Linked DNA regions of Homo sapiens: region 2 is linked to region 1. The links come from fine-mapping of genetic effects on gene expression. Tissue or cell type: caudate. Region 1 holds a variant in brackets; the other region holds the start of a gene. All regions are shown on one strand. Distances are between the middles of the regions.

The links. PIP is the estimated chance that this variant, and not a neighbour inherited with it, causes the effect.
Region 2: it holds the start of CPVL, and the variant in region 1 is fine-mapped to the expression of CPVL in caudate (GTEx, PIP 0.99).

The regions. Positions count from the first base shown.
Region 1 is chr7:29,166,730-29,174,837 of GRCh38, forward strand. It overlaps a transcript of CPVL not described here and a transcript of CHN2 not described here. Among named protein-coding and RNA genes, the nearest start is that of CHN2, 24 kb to the right of the region's middle. The variant C/T (reference allele first, on the strand shown) is at 3,007.
Region 2 is chr7:29,141,721-29,149,821 of GRCh38, forward strand. CPVL (carboxypeptidase vitellogenic like) reads right to left here and starts at 4,817. Exons shown (of 13, transcript NM_031311.5): 1 at 4,709-4,817. It also overlaps a transcript of CHN2 not described here.

The DNA of each region.
Region 1 (8,108 bases):
AATTTGTATCATTTCTATTTTTTTCTTGATGAATCCAGCTAAAGGTTTATCACTCACTGATCTCAAAAAACCAGTTTTTTATTCCAATGATATTCTCTATTTTTTGTTTTTCTATTTCCTGTACCTTCTTGAACATTTGAAACATATTTATAATAGTTCTTTTAATGTCCTTGACTACTAGTTCTACTATCTGTGTCATTTTTGTTCTGTTTCCATTGACTGATTTTTCTCCACAATATAAGATATATTTCTATGCTTTTTTGCATGCATAGAGTACATATACTGTATATGTACAAGTTAAAGAATAATAACAAAGTGAACAATGTTTACAACTCCAAACAACTTGACGAAAAGAATATTATCAATACCTTAAATCTGTCCCTGGTAACATCCCTACCTTGATACACTCAAAGTGTACTCAAAGGTACAATATCTTGAATTTTGTGTTAAACTAACTTTTAATTATTTATTTTTGCTTAAGTATGTAATCCTAAAATAATATATTAATTTTAACTTTTTTAGACCTTTGTCAAATACAATAATTCTAGGCTTACTTTTTTCATTCAATATGTTTCTGAAATTCAACCAGATGAACATGTATCTGTTCATTCATATTCTATCCTAAATGGTATTTCATTAAATGAATATTCAAAAAATTATCCACTATCTGCGGACATGAGAGCTATTTCCAGTTTTTCTTTTTGCTTGTTTGATTCGCTGGTACAAACAGTGCTTCTATGACCATATTTGAATATGTCTTTGGTGCACATATGCAAAACTATTTCTAAAGTATGTATCTTAGAGTGGTATTGCTGAGTCGAAGACTATATGAATTTTCAACTTTGCTAAATAACACTAAATTGTTTTTTAAAGTAGTGGTACCAATTTACTCTTCAGTCAAAAGTGTGTAAGTGTTTTTATTGCTCTACATCTTCACCAATATTTGGTTTTGTCAGACTATATAGTTTTGCCAATCTGATAGAAAAAAACTGGCATCTGTGAAAGTCATTTGTTTTCCCTAAACATTTCCAGTTTTCTCTGCTTCCAAGCACATAGTAGAAGGAATTGCACTTCCTAAATCCTTGTTATGAGTGAGTTTGACTTGTAATGAATTGTGAAGGAATGTCTGCCAGCTCCTGGCTGGAGCAATTACTTACTGATGCAAAAACCCCCATGCTTTCCTTCCCTCTGACAAGGAGGCCTACAACATCGGAGGTAACTGTTGTGTGACCCTGGGAACATGAGTGATCATAATGAACAGATGACTGACCACAGTTCCCAGATGACCTAAACTGGACATTTGTGTGAGTGAGAAGTAAAATTTTGTTGGTATGATTCTTGGGTGTTGGTGGCAACAATATTACCTAGCATATCATAACATACAGAATATCTCATTGTGGTTTTAATTTGCTTTTTCCTGCTTACTAATGAGACTGCACATCTTCTGACGTTTGGTCTGGGCATTTTTTTATTTCATAAAATGTCGGTTTATTTGTTTGTTTAAACCATCTTTCAATGGGTTTCTTTGTCTTTCTCTTATTGATTTCTAGAAGTTCTTTAGACATTTTGGATTCTCATCTTGTGTCAGCTTTGTTTCAATTCCATTACACAATTTTTGGTTTTTCTTTTAATGGTTCTTAAATAAAACTTTTTATCTTAGAAAATTTCAAGCATACAAAATAGAATATTCTAATAAGCCTCCATGTAGCCATACCCAGCTTCTATAATTATGGACTCATAGTCAATCTTTTTTGCATCTGTAATCTCTACCCATTCCTCCCACCCCTGGATTATTTTGAAGAAAATGCCAGACATCCTATAGTTTCATCTGTGTATCTCTAAAGGTAAGAACTCTTTGCAATTTGGAGGTCCAGTGTTATGTGAGGGTCTCTGTTCCAATCCCCCAACCTGTATAGGCTGAAAGCTTTCCCTCTTCCCCCTCAAACCTCAGCTGTAGGCTTCCAGGGAGAGTTTGTGTCTCAGCTAATCAGATGGCTAAACACACTTAAAAACTATTTTTCCATTATATTATGCTAAAAGCACTAGAAGTAATTTAGTTTAGCATGTATTCATGTTGTTTAGACATGTACTACTAAGTATGTATTATGTGTGCATGATTTTTACATATGCGTGTTTACCACTATCCATTTAATCTATAAGCTTCTAAGAGGTATGAACTATTTCTATTCGCCATGTTTTAAGTAATACCCAGCCCAATGTGATTCAAAAGTAAATGTATAATAAATTCTATTTGATGAAAATGGAAGTCCTGGTTATTAGAATATCATGAGGAAAATGGACTCAAATTGTGGTTTGATTTTCATAGGCAATTCTAATGGATATATAAGAAATTTATCTCCCATAGAATAAAACATGGAATTTTCCCCATTTTATTCATTTCAGTTTTCTTTCTTTCATACCTATTCTAGGTGGTCTATGCATTGTATATTCAGTACTGTTTTTGAAAGGCATGTTACTCAAAATACATGGTTGTACTACGAATAAATGCACTATGCTGATATTACCATTGTAGAAGATTCTGGGAAGAACATTCTATTATTCAATCCCTTAAAATATATCATCCTATTGAGTTGCTTCTTCTAAGGCATTCATGTACAGTGTGCTCTTTTAGAGTTTAACAATTCCATTTTCATACCCCTCTAAACACACCATTTTAATTATTTTTAAAAACTTACCATTAGTGATTTGTCCTATTTTGTTTTTATATAAATGTTTATATACAATAATGTTATGTTAAAAATAAATACAACTGTTTTGTTATTGTTATATTATCTTTCACTTAAACAAGAGGAAAGGGAGATTAAGTAGCTGACGGTGTACTGAAGAGTAACTGAAAAGACCAAAACAGGACCATTGGCTTTTTCTACCTATTCTTCTTTGGCTTCTGCCTTTTCATGTCCTATGTATGGCTGCCATCATGTGCTGCTCTGTCTTTTCTTCTCAGGGCCTGCTTGACACATTTGATCCAGAAAAGCTTCTTCCTCC[C/T]TTCTGACCACTGTTTGCTCAGTCAGAGCTGGTGTGCCTATAGACCTTCACATCCTTATTCCATGGCTACCTGGCAGGGATAAGATGTATATATATATATACACACATATATATAAGTATATATACGTGTGTGTGTGTGTGTGTGTATATATATATGTATATACAGGTTGCTGCTCTGTTGCTCAGGCTGGGGTGCAGTGGCGCCATCATAGCTCATTGCAGCCTTGAACCCCTGGGCTCAAGTGATCCTCCTGCCTCTGCCTCCTAAAGCACTGGAGTTACAGGTGTGAGTACCATGCCCAGCTGTGGTGTCCTTTTGATCCTTGTATTTGGCCTTCTTGACTAATCCAGTGCTCCCAGACTTCTAGCAGAAGCCCATTCTCTGGAGGTAAACTGACAGGAATCCTATGGGGTGGAGGGGGATTCCCTGAGCTCTTAAACATGGTCCTAAGGTGCTTCCTTGGCTACTTTATGTTTAACAATAGATTGCTGGTGATACTGATGAAACTCTTCTTTTGTTTTAATATCTGACAAATTTCTTGCTAATCTTAATTACTAGAGCAACTCTAGGGAACAGTGAATCTTCAAACACAAGATTTTAATATGCTTTCCTTCATGTCAGTGTTCCTTTTATGCATACCTCTAGTAAAACATTGTTCCATTTGATGCCAAAGATTTGCCCTTTCTTTAATTAATTTTGAATACTGCACATGTTAGATTTTCCCCCATTATTCATATTTTCTCCAATTGTTCATCTGGGGACGAATTTAAGTAATTTGTACATGTCCTTAGTTTAAAATGGGTTTTGTACATTCACTGAATATTTTGAAGAAAAATCAACCATTACATGACAAATGTATGTCTTCTAGAATTTTTATTTCTAAACTTCATGGAACACTTCTGTGTGACTTTCTGTAATATCTAATCTCAGGCAAAAATGACTTACTGTATTAGTCTGTTTTCACACTGCTGATAAAGACGTACTCGCGACTGGGCAATTTACAAAAGAAAGAGGTTTAATTGGACTTATAGTTCCATATGGCTGGTGGGGGGGCCTCACAATCATGGCGGAAGGCGAGGAGGAGCAAGTCACATCTTATGTGGATGGCTGCAGGTAAAGAGAGAGCTTGTGCAGGAAAACTTCCCCTTATAGCAACTATCAGATCTCGTGAGACTTACTCACTATCACAAGAAAAACATGGGAAAGACCTGCCCCCATGCTTCAATTACCTCCCACGGGGTCCCTCCCACAACATGTCGGAATTCAAGATGAGATTAGTGTGGGGACACAGCCAAACCATATCACTTACACTTCTCTATGACTCAGCTGATTTATTAAAAAACGACTTTATGAGATGTGTCAATTGAGATGGAAGGTGCTGGACATAATGAACTGCCGGTTTCCCCCCAGTTCTGACTCTTGCCTGCAGAGCCCTAACATTGCTTACATACGCACTGCTCTTTCACATGAAGGAACAGCGCAGACATCACCTAATACGCGTCCTACTGTATTCTTTCTGCCACATTCCCAGAAACCCCAAAGCTCTTTGGAACACCCAGGGGATTTCACAGGTCTATAAAGAAGAACAACCTGTAAACTGGGCTTGGTGATTCTGTGGGGATACAAACCAACATAATACATATGTAATGGAATAAACAACGGCATTAGCCAGTTCAGAGTCTTCAAGCTGAACTTGTTAGAAGGAGCGCCACACCTCAAGTAAACTAATAGGGTGGGGATCCCAGACGGAGAGGATTCTACCCAGAATCCTCCTCAATTCAGCCCCGAGCTTTCTTTGAAGGGCTTTCTTTGTACAGAGTTTAAGGTCAGAGACTTTTAACGTGGACCGGAAAGACAAACTCTAATACCTTAAGGGGCACTATTAAATCAAATTCCACAAACTAAATACTTGTCCGGAGATGAACAATTCAGAGTATAGCAGTTGTTGCAGGCTAAATCCAAGCATATGACATAATTTAGAAATCTACCAGTGTGTCTCCAGAGAATGCATTTTCATTTTTCCATAATATAATACATGCCTATCAAATCCATCTAACATTATTGAATCCATCACTTTTTAAGAAATGAAGTTGTTGTAGCTGAAGCTTTCAAGCATGCCGTCACATATAGTTCTTACAAATGGACTTACGAACTGATTTGGAGGGAAGCCCCCAATTCCCATATGTTTGACTTTAAAGAACAATCCAGCTGTATCTGAAGTAATTGTCCTCCTCAACAGAGTGCACAATGCAGGGTGCAGTGGGTGGTACACAGGAGAAAAAACTCATGGAATGGTGGAGACAGCCCCCTAGTCAGCCAGATGGGCCAAATCAGATGTAGGGTCAGCAGTATCACGTTTATACGCTTGGATTACATTGCCACCTAGAAGGAACCCAGGGAGTACCTAGGTTTCCATATATGGGGGGATTCCTGCAATGATTCAGTCCTTTAATGGGGCATCTTACTGTAAATCATTAAAACAGCACCACCTACTCTCCAGCATCCGGCCCACTGAGTTCTTGAAAGCATGGTTGCTGTGGGCATCACAGCTGATTTCTGTTAGTTGACTGGTCTCATCCAGTTGACCAACATTCTGCTTCAGGAACATTGTGACTTCTACACCTAGGCTCACCCTTGGTTATGATAGCATCAGTGTCTAAAGTTTTCTTAATATGCTGTAACAATAATCTCTGTCTCATCTATCATCATATTGCCACCCATTTATCATCCAAAAAAAATTATTAAAAATAACCAAGCCTTCAGATTCAGGAAAACCATTGGAATCAATTTGATTTCCCTTGCAGTTGGGAAATGAATTTTAAATTATTCATGTTAACACCCTCCAGATAAATTGAATTTTTAGAATATTTAAGAAAAGCTTAGTAAAGTCCATCTTTGACATTAACAGATTCCTTTTTTTAAATATTAATTTCATATTAACCATTGCTTTTTGACATACAGTCATCTGACCAACGATTTCAAGAATCATTAATGTTAATTGGGAAAGAAGTAAAACCTTAACATTTTAATATTATAAAACTTTTTTTTTCAACTTCTGTTTCCAGCTGTATGACTCACTAGATATCTGGAGAAGCTTTTCTGCCACTTAAAAATGCTGGATAAGGCCGAGTGTGGTAGCTCACCAGCGTTTTGGGAGGCCGAGGTGGGTGGATCACCTGAGGTTAGGAGTTTGAGACCAGCGTGGCCAGTATGGCAAAAACCTGTTTCTACTAAAAATACAAAAATTAGCTGGGCATGGTGGTGGGTGCCTGTAATCCCAGCCACTCAGGAGCCTGGGGAAGGAGAATCGCTTGAACCCAGGAGGCAGAGGTTGCAGTGAGCTGAGATTGCGCCAATGTACTCCAGCCTGGGTGACAGAGCAAGACTCTGTATCAAAAAAAAAAAAAAAAAGCTGGATGAGATAGTTTTTAAAAAAACATTTTTAAAAATGCACACCTAAGCTTATAGGAAAGTCAAGGAAATCTTCTAAGGCCAGAAAGCTAAGCAGGAACCCAGAGGAAAAAAAGCCCTGTAGCTGGCATTGCCCTGAATGCATCTGCCAGGTGCTGGTAGCCTCGAGTGGGGGCCTAACTTTCTGCAGCCATATAATTTATCCTCCAGCCCACAGTGATTATGAAGTGAAAGGTGGTGCTATTAATAATACATGAGGATTTCTGCTCCTGCTTGGAATATAGAAAGCTACGAGAGAATGTCACCCCCATCCTAACAACAAGAAAATGAGGAACAGTGTACAATATTATAACTTTCTTTCCTTAAACTCATCAGAGACTTGAGGTCACAAGGCAACCAGGAAAGTAAACTTCAAAGGATAAAAAGCATCTCTAATGAGAGGCAGGATATGAAATTGTTGCACCTTTGGCAGAGTATGGGAGGAAGGAGGGGGTTGTTGCCATGGAGTGAGTAAGAAGAAATATTTTTTTAAAAATAATGAATTCCTTACTTTGGCAGGCTGAGGCGGGCAGATCACTTGAGGTCAGGTGCCCGGCCTGTCCAACATGGTGAAACCCTGTCTCTACCAAAAAAAAAAAAAAAAATTAGTCGAGTGTGGTGGTTCATGCCTGTAATCCCATGTAATTCCATCTTACTTGGGGGGCTGAGGCACTAGAATTACTTGGACCTGGGAGGTGGAGGCTGCAGTGAGCTGAGATCACACCACTGCACTCCAGCCTGGGTGACAGAGGGAGACTGACTCAAAAAAAAAAAAAAGAATTTCTAAAGACTGAGTATGCACTCATATCTCATATTAATTTAGAATAATTGAGAGGCCCAGACACAAGCGGAGTTCACACACACTCCCAAGCTTCTCTTCATAGTCTCCATGGGGAAGAGGGGGTGCTCTTGAGGAAGACTAGGGCAGGGCAAAAGGCTGGAGAGACCCCCCCGTTTGGTGGCACAGGATGCAGGAGGAGGTGGCTGCCCCCACACCTTGATGCTCCTCTCATGGGAGCAAAAGCCTTAATTAAGCTGTCAGGAAGAAGCAGCAAGCCCTTGAGAAGCAAAGCCCTCTGCCTCTGGAGGGGGGCCAGCAATCCCGTCTTTCCATATTTTGGTATGCAGGCACATATCTGCTTCTGGGGAAAGGACAGAAGCAAAAGTCATCAGTCCCTGAGGAGAGACAGTAAAGCTTTTCGAGGCCTGGAGGCTACACCAGTACATAGCCAAGGTCTGCTTCTCCCCCAAGAGGGACAGGAACCTGTCCAGACAAGGGACAGGTTGCTCAGCTGATTAGCCATGGGGGCACAAAGCAGGATGGAACATGGTAGAGTGGATTTGGAAGGGGCAGAAAGAAAATACCCAACACAATGATTAAACAATTTTGAGAGTCCAGGTGCAGTGACTCACGCCTGTAATCCAGCACTTTGGGAGGCCGACTTGGGCGGATCACCTGAGGTCAGGAGTTCGAGATCAGCCTGGCCAACATGGTGAAACCCCATCTATGCTAAAGATACAAAATTAGCTGGGCACGGTGGCACACACCTGTAATCCCAGCTACTTGGGAGGCTGAGGCAGAAGCATTGCTTGAACCCAAGAGGTGGAGGTTGCAGTGAGCCAAGATTGTGCCATCGCACTCCAGCCTGGG
Region 2 (8,101 bases), 25 kb before region 1:
CCTGGCCAACGTGGTAAAACCCTGTCTCTACTAAACATATAAAAATTAGCCAGGCGTGGGGGTACACGCCTGTAGTCCCAGCTACTCAGGAGGCTGAGGCAGGAGAATCACTTGAACCCAGGAGGCAGAGGTTGCAGTGAGCTGAGATTGTGCCACCGCACTCCAGCCTAGGCAACAGAGTGAGACACCATCTCAAAAAAAAAAAAAGTAGCTGTTGCCTTGTGAAAAGATAGACAAGTTCATTAAATTACCTGGCTTCTGATCTGCAAGTGGGTTACCTGGAAAAAGCGTTGTATGCTCTAAAAGTCCTAGATAAAAAAATTTATTTAACTTTCTCTTCTTCTTTCCTCTGCCTCACCTTACCCCCTGAACTTCCCAGAATGGGAAAAGGAAAGACTTACTTCACTTTACTAGTGCAGATATGGTCTTTTAGTTAGGAACTGTGGTCAATTATTAATGAGAACTGCAGCTATAGTAACACTGTAGATAAACAGGCATTAAAATACTAACAGATCATTGAACACCTGTATTTATTTTTTGCTCCAAGGACTCCATATATTCAGATTTTCTTCAAGATCTTATCCTTTTTTCTCTTTCCGTACATTCCCATTCAACCACCCCTTGAGTATTAATCACTAGTCCAAATGTTTGTTCAGTCCTGACATTGCTATTGGGCATTTCAGGACAGTATCACCACTGTCAGCTGTCACCTCCAAAAGGATAACCAATCAGCCCCTCAAACCCACTGACTCTATAACAGGACGTCATCATTCTCCTCAAACTTCCTCCTTCTATGACTTCCAGATACTTTTTTTTTTTTTTTTGAGACACAGTCTTGCTCTGTTGCCCAGGCTGGAGTGTAGTGGTGCAATCTCGGTTCACTGGAGCCTCTGCTGCCGGGTTGCAGCGATTCTCCCGCCTCAGCCTCCTGAGTAGTTGGGATTACAGGCATGCACCACCACGCCTGGTTAATTTTTGTATTTTTAGTAGACACAGGGTTTCACCATGTTGGCCAGGCTGGTCTCAAACTCCTGACCTCAGGTGATCTGCCCGCCTCAGCCTCCCAAAGTGCTGGGATTACAAGCATGAGCCACCATGCCCAGCGACTTCCAGATTCTTAATGATGCTCCCTTATAATTGCAGATGCCTGAGTTCTAAAACCAGAAGTCCTCAAGTCAAATCTGTCACCAAGTGCTATTCTACTTCCTTTTTTCTCCATTCTATCCACAGTTCAACCCTTACTTGCCCCGAGACATTTACAAAGCTTCCTAACACATCTCTCAGACTTCCGGTCCTTTTCCCTCCAATTTAGCCTAACACTGATGCTTCAGTGAGCTTTCTAAAACACAAGGCACTCCATTCCTCCCATGCCTTCAATGGCTCCCACCTGCAACCAGGAAAAAGTATAAACTTTCTACGATGAAATTTAATGTCCTCCATGATACAACTTCAACATAACTTTTCAAACCAAAGTTACATGATTCCTTCACAAACTCTTAGCCTATGCTCCGCCAAATCAAAACTCTCCTTGTTCCCTAACCCTACCCTGCCTTTTATGTTTTTACAGCTTTGCTGAGCAAACCTCCAGGCAAACAGTAGGAACTAATCAATGCCAGTTGATTAATCAATTGAAATCAATACCCTGGCTTCTAATCAATAATAGAATCTAGGTAGATTCTAGATTGCAAAATTCTTTTGACTTTTCTGAAAGTTTAAACCTTTTCATAATCAAACACTGGGAAAAAATTAGTTAAATGAATAAATAAATGAGAAAATGAATCGCTTGGGACCTGGGTTACATTCTCTCCCAAGAATCATACAGTACAAAAAGATATGTGGCACTATCTTTTTGAAAGAGGGGTAATGGGATACAGAGTCCCAAAAAGGAAAGGAGGAAGAGCTTACCTTTAGGGTTCAAAGTAAATATTTTGGCCTGTAAACAATTCTAAGCAATTTAAAGACAACCAATAACTAGAATCAGACTAGAGAGAAAAAGGTAGGAGGTAAGTTCCAACTATATTGGAAAGATAAGCTGCTAAGAATTTGCTTTTTCAGGCTCCAAGATCTAAGGACACAGTCCTTCCCCCTCTTTCACTACCACCACCCTGTCCTGCACCCCAGGGTCTGAGTTAAAGCAATGAAAGCATGTGATTTCATGTTCAAGGTTATACCTCTAATATCTCTTAAGGGAGAGCAATCTCAATACCCTGGTTTCAGTTCAGATACGCTGTAACAGCTGTCTTGTGAACTGTCTATTAAGGCTTACATCTTTGAGCTTGCAAATATAGTATAAAAGTTCAAACTCCACTACTGTTTTTACCAGGAAAGTACAGTTCTTAGCTTTTTGCCCAGCTTACCTCTCTCACAAGTCAATATAGACGTTAATGAGTCATTGTTCTAGAGGTATCTTTCTAATTCTGAGAAGCTTGCCTACTTCTTTTAAATGTTCTTAGTTCAGTCAATGAAAATCTCACATTATAAAGCCATCGGAAATGGTAAACTAAAACAATCATGTTTGCTCTTTAGTGAACCATACTTCCTATTAAGAAGGGGTCACTGGCCAGGCACAGTGGCTCATGCCTGTAATCCCAGCACTTTGGAAGGCCGAGGTGGGAGGATCACTTGAGGTCAGGAGTTCGAGACCAGCCTGGGCAACATGGCAAAACCCCATCTCTACCAAAGATACAAAAATTAGCCGGGCATGGTGGTGTACACCTGTAATTCCAGCTACTCAGGAGGCTGAGGCACAAGAATCCCTTGAACCCGGGAGATGGAGGTTGCAGTGAGCAGAGATGGTGCCACTCCAGCTTGGGTGACAAAGTGAGACTCTTGTCTCAAAAAAAGAAAGAATGGGTCATTACTATTTACCTTGAGTATTTGGGTGCTAATAAACAGATATCTGATGATACCTGGGGCAAGAACTGAGTTCCTCCCCTCTCATTGCCTTAGTTCTGTGCATCCCAGGGTAGTATTCAACACTCAGTGTTTCCTCTGACAAACTAGATGCTTCCCAAAACAAAAACAAACTCATTTTTAGAATTCTGTTATATTATTTGCTTCTTGTTTTTATTTTTTGTGGGGAGTGAACTGGTAAACCCAGTGGACTTTCTTAACACTCTTCTAAGTCATTCAAACTGTCAGTCAAAACCCACCTATTTCTCAGGCTAGTAGAATCCCACTATAAAGTGATTTATAAACTGGATTTATATAAATTGGGGGATCAATTGCCCCTCCCAAACAATCATCTCCTATAAAAGATTAATAAAACAACATCTGGTTAAGAACACTGACACTACATTATAAAGGGTTGCCCCTGTACTTAGACTAGCATGAGGTACACATCTAGAATGCCCAGTTAGCCAAACGGTCTTGACGACCATGCAGACTTTCATATGCCAACAAAGCCGGTGCAGTGTACTTTTCCAAAAGTGCTCCAATTCTCCTTTTGGACAACTTTCTTAAACGTTATTTACCAAGCTAATAAAATGTATTCTCAATGGACTTTTTACTCTGCTTACATCTTTGTTCTTACTCATCCCAAAGCAAAGAATGGAAAAAAAATGAGTTGTACATTTAGCCGGGGAAGGGAAAGGCAAGTACTGAGGGGCTCCTTTTTCATTTACTGATGCCAAAACTGAGGCTGTGGAAGATAAGTTACGTCCCTGATGTCATCCAAGTAGTGGATACCGGAACCAGGAATTGCACAGAATTGTCCAGCTCCAAAACCCAAGCACCTTGCTTGGGACCCACTGGGGTTGCAGTGAAGGTGGGGGGCTCAGAGGTGACTGCACACGGGTCATGCATAGCCACAGTCATTATATGGCCAGAGTTTTAAACATTATTTTGTTCTGTCTTCACCATAGACTTCATCATCAATCATAACTGATAAGGAAAATTACACTTAGCTGAAAAGCCAAGTCCCGTGCTAGGGAGGCATTTTCTGTATGTTATTTCTATTTCCAATAAAACAATTCTTTAAAAAGAAAAACTTATTATCTCCATCTTTCAGATGGAAAGACTGAGGTTTAGTAGGCTTAAATAATTTGCCCGAGGTCACTCACTAGCCAAGGCCAGAACTGGGATTTAAATCCACAAATATTCCAAAGTCCTTTTGTTTCTGTATCACTTCACAGGGAGCTGCTTCCACCTGTCTCCTGTGCCCTTGGTTTCTGCTAATCCTACATTCCAAGAATAAAAGTCTTCCTATGCGTTCCTAGGCAGAAGCCAAGTTTCCCTGCTTTGGGCACGTTCAAAATAGAAGGTATTTTCCGCTTCTCTTGCTTCTGAGCACCCACGAAATCAACACATCCCCAAAACACGCGTTGAGGGAGTAAGGGAAAGTGTCCTGCACCCGCCACCCTCCCGCGCTAAGAGCGGCAGAGGACCCCACAGCTTCGTACTTCCCCGGAGGAGCTCCTGGAGTAGGAGACGGCTTCTAGCCTGGAAGAACCCCGGGTGCGACAGTTGTGCCAGGAAACTTCAAGAGTATTCCCTCGGCTGGGCGCACGCAGTACATCCCCAATGCTCCAATTTGAACTTTGACTCGGCCACGACCACCCCACTCCAGTCTCACTCTACGGTGCTTTCTCCCCTGTTGGTGCTGAGGGCTTTTGAGACTACCTGCCCCGCGCTCCCTAAGTCCGAGGGACCGAGGCGAGGACCTGTCCCGCTGAGCTGGCACGACCCACGCAGGGCAGGCGGCACTTACGCGGCGCAGTCGGTGCTCCTCCCTGAGCCGCGGCGCGCAAGGACCCCAGCCGGTTGTCCTTGCAGCGCTTCCCAAATCAGGCAGAAGTGAGGCAGCCCCACCCAGTCACGAGGACCCTGCAGAACTCGAGCCTTTAAGCGCTCCTCTAGGCTCACATGACCCAGACCCACAGGGCAAAAAGTGCGTCGTCGTGTCCCAACCTCCTGGTCCCAGAAACCTGGCCGCATCAAGTCAGCGCTTCCCATGCTGGAAGAAGCAAGCAGCCCCAGGGTGGAATCTTAAAAATTAATGAAGAGCATCGGCGGGGTGCCATTCAGGTTGGTTTGTCCCTTTGTTTTATTTTGATTTTGTCTCCCAGTTTTTAAAAGCTGCTATCTTAAAATTTCAACCCTGTATTTTGAAATTATTTCTGCACTCTAGGACTTACTTGCAAGCCCAGGATTTACATTTGGAAAGCGAGTGGTGTTTGATTCCCACTGTTTAAAAAGGCAACACACGTTCGCTGATGGTCTACATTCCAGCTGCACTAGCAGTAAGCTCGCACCAAGTGCCACTGTCCTGCCAAGCACTCTCCTGAATCACTGCGCTGGAGTCTCAGAGCCACCTGATGTGTTCTGTACCATTATACCCATTTTGCAATTGGGGGACACAAACTAAGTGAGGTTAAGTAACCCATCCAGGGTCACATTGCTTGTAAGTGACCTGAGTGTATATTATTAGCCACCACCAGGTGCTGGGCATCGAGCCAGACAGTACGGGAGCAAGAACTAAAAAAGGCAAGGAGGTTGCAATGGCAAGTAGATAACACAAAATAAAGGAGGGTCATCATTATCAGCAACAGCAGCGTCAACTGCCAGACAGGTGGGAGAGGCCACGGGGAATCTTCTGCACTGTCCCGGGCCAACCTCCATCTCCTCACAGCTAGCTGCAGGAGTGAGCCCAGGGAAACCCGCAGTAGAGCAGCCCAGCCAACCCGACAGTCAGGGGGAAAAATTGTTTTAAGCCACTTTCAGTTTCGCGTAGTTTGTTATGCAACTAAGGCTAACTAAAGCACTAGTTTTACGAGCTGGAACAAACTAATGTCACTGAATATCTGTTTTCTCCTAAGTACCTACTTTATTGGGTTGTTGTGAGGACTCACTGAAAAACTATGTGTAAATCACCCAGCACAAAGTATGTGCTCAGTGACTGCAGTCATTCTTTGCTATCATACCTTCCATATGGAAGTACTTCCTACCCACCTAGCTCTTTAAGGAGAAAAATCTGTTTGTGGGAAAATAATTCTTTTAAGGCCAAAATCAGCCCACCTTTAATATATGCAGGACCCAGGGCAAAAGTACAAACAGAGATCTGTAGGCCAGATACCTAAATATTTAAAAGTTATAAACAAAGTTAACAAATGATTAAGTACAATAAGTTCTACCTTCCTACCTAGACAAATATACCTTGGGAATTGACATGAAAGGCCAGATTGAAACTTTGGATGATCTGCACTTAAATATGATGGTGCAGGGAGAGGCGATTTCCAGTTCCTGGTTTGCAGCCACCTCCTCTCTTCCCACAGGGCTCTAGTCCATTGGTGGAAGCTCGGTCAAGCTTCCCAGAAGCAGCTGTCCCCCAGCCACCTCTTGGGCACAAGAGTATGAACACCAGAGTCAGCAATGTTCGCCCATGGGAGTACAGACATTAGCAGATAACACTGCTGCTGGCGTGCAGACCCTTGAAGCAGGCTCAGTGCCATTTGGGGAGGGAATTTGGAATTTGCCTTCTAAAGTGTGGGCCCTGGACAAGGGCTCCTTGGGTCTAAGTATAAGGACAACTACTGGCCAAAGAATACCTGTGCCCACGTGGAACCACTTAAAAACTAAACTGAATTTTACAGTAAACACAGGAGGAGCCATGCTGTAAGCATATTTATTCAAAAACAGGGTGTCCCAAAAGTCTTCCTGCAGTTTTAGTAACCTCAAGGCTATAAATGCTGCAACTTATAAGAACACCATTTGAAAGTTAATTTAACACTATTTATCTCTGTGAATGTTGAATAACACGTTTTAACTTTAATTTTTGTTTCAGTTCCCCTGAGTGAAATATGGCATACATTAACCAGAAGAGAAAATTACATTTATTAAAATAATTAAAACAGAGTCAAAAGAAGTAAACGTTCAAATGAGTTTTGTAAGTTTGTAGCATTTCGACTTAAGAAGTTATTAAAGCTTAAAACTGCACTGACCTTTTTGGGGTACCCTGTATTCGGATTTGTCGTGTGTCAGGTTCTGTGCTAGACACTTGATTAAAAAGAAAAAACAAGAAAAAAGATAGTCTTCTTTAGGGAACTTGAAGTTTAGTTGTGGGGAAGGGATGAAGGGGACACACAGATTGATCCCATCATACAATATAAGAGCTGTAATTGGGGCTGATAAAGTGTGTGTGTGGGGGAACAGAGGACAGGGACCAAATGACTCTGCCCGAAGAGCCAGGGGAATCCTGTCAGAGGAGGTGACTTGAAGCTAGACATTAAAAAATGAATAGCCACTGAGGGGAAAGGTGGCAGCACAGGCAATGAGCAGGCCACCTGCACTCAGGTTGATGCTGTGCTCTTGGACAGATGGACTGTGCGACACCAGGCGTGTTCAGGGTGGGTCGGGGGTTAACTAATACTGAGGTTAGAAAATTAGACTGGAGCCAGCTTGGAAAGGGCAAGAATGCTGAGCTCTAGAGACTGATGTTGTTCAAAATTAGTAGATTGGGAAGTCTGTTTCCCTTTTTTTTTTTTTTTTTTTTTGAGACAGAGTCTTACTGTGCCGCCCAGGCTGGACTGCAATGTCGCAATCTCAGCTCACTGCAACCTCCACCTCCCGGGTTCAAGCGATTCCCTGCTTCAGCCCCCCGAGTAAGCTGGGACTACAAGCACCCGCCACCACAGCCAGCTAATTTTTTGTATTTGTAGTAGACACGGGGTTTCACCATATTGGCCAGGCTGGTCTCGAACTCCTGACCGCAAGTTATCCACCTGCCTTGGCCTCCCAAAGTGCTGGGATTACAGGTGTAAGCCACCGTGCCCAGCCTGGAAATCCATTTTCTTAATGAAAGAGAATAAAATAGAACAAAATAGTACAGAACAGAATAGAACCATAGGACAGGAGTATGTGCTTTCCAGGGAGGTTGTAACTGAGCAGCTATTAACAGTAGAAATTTATTGTCTCATAGTTCTGGAGGCTACAAGTCTGAAATTAAAGTGCCAGCAGGGCCAGGTTCCCTCTGAAACCTGGAGGGGAAGGATCCTTCCTCGCTGCTTCTAGGTTCTGGTAGCCCCAGGTGTTCCTTGGCTTGTGGCAGCATCAACCCAATCTCTGCTTCAGCCTTCCAGGGCTTTCTCTCTGTGTCTTTTCACAG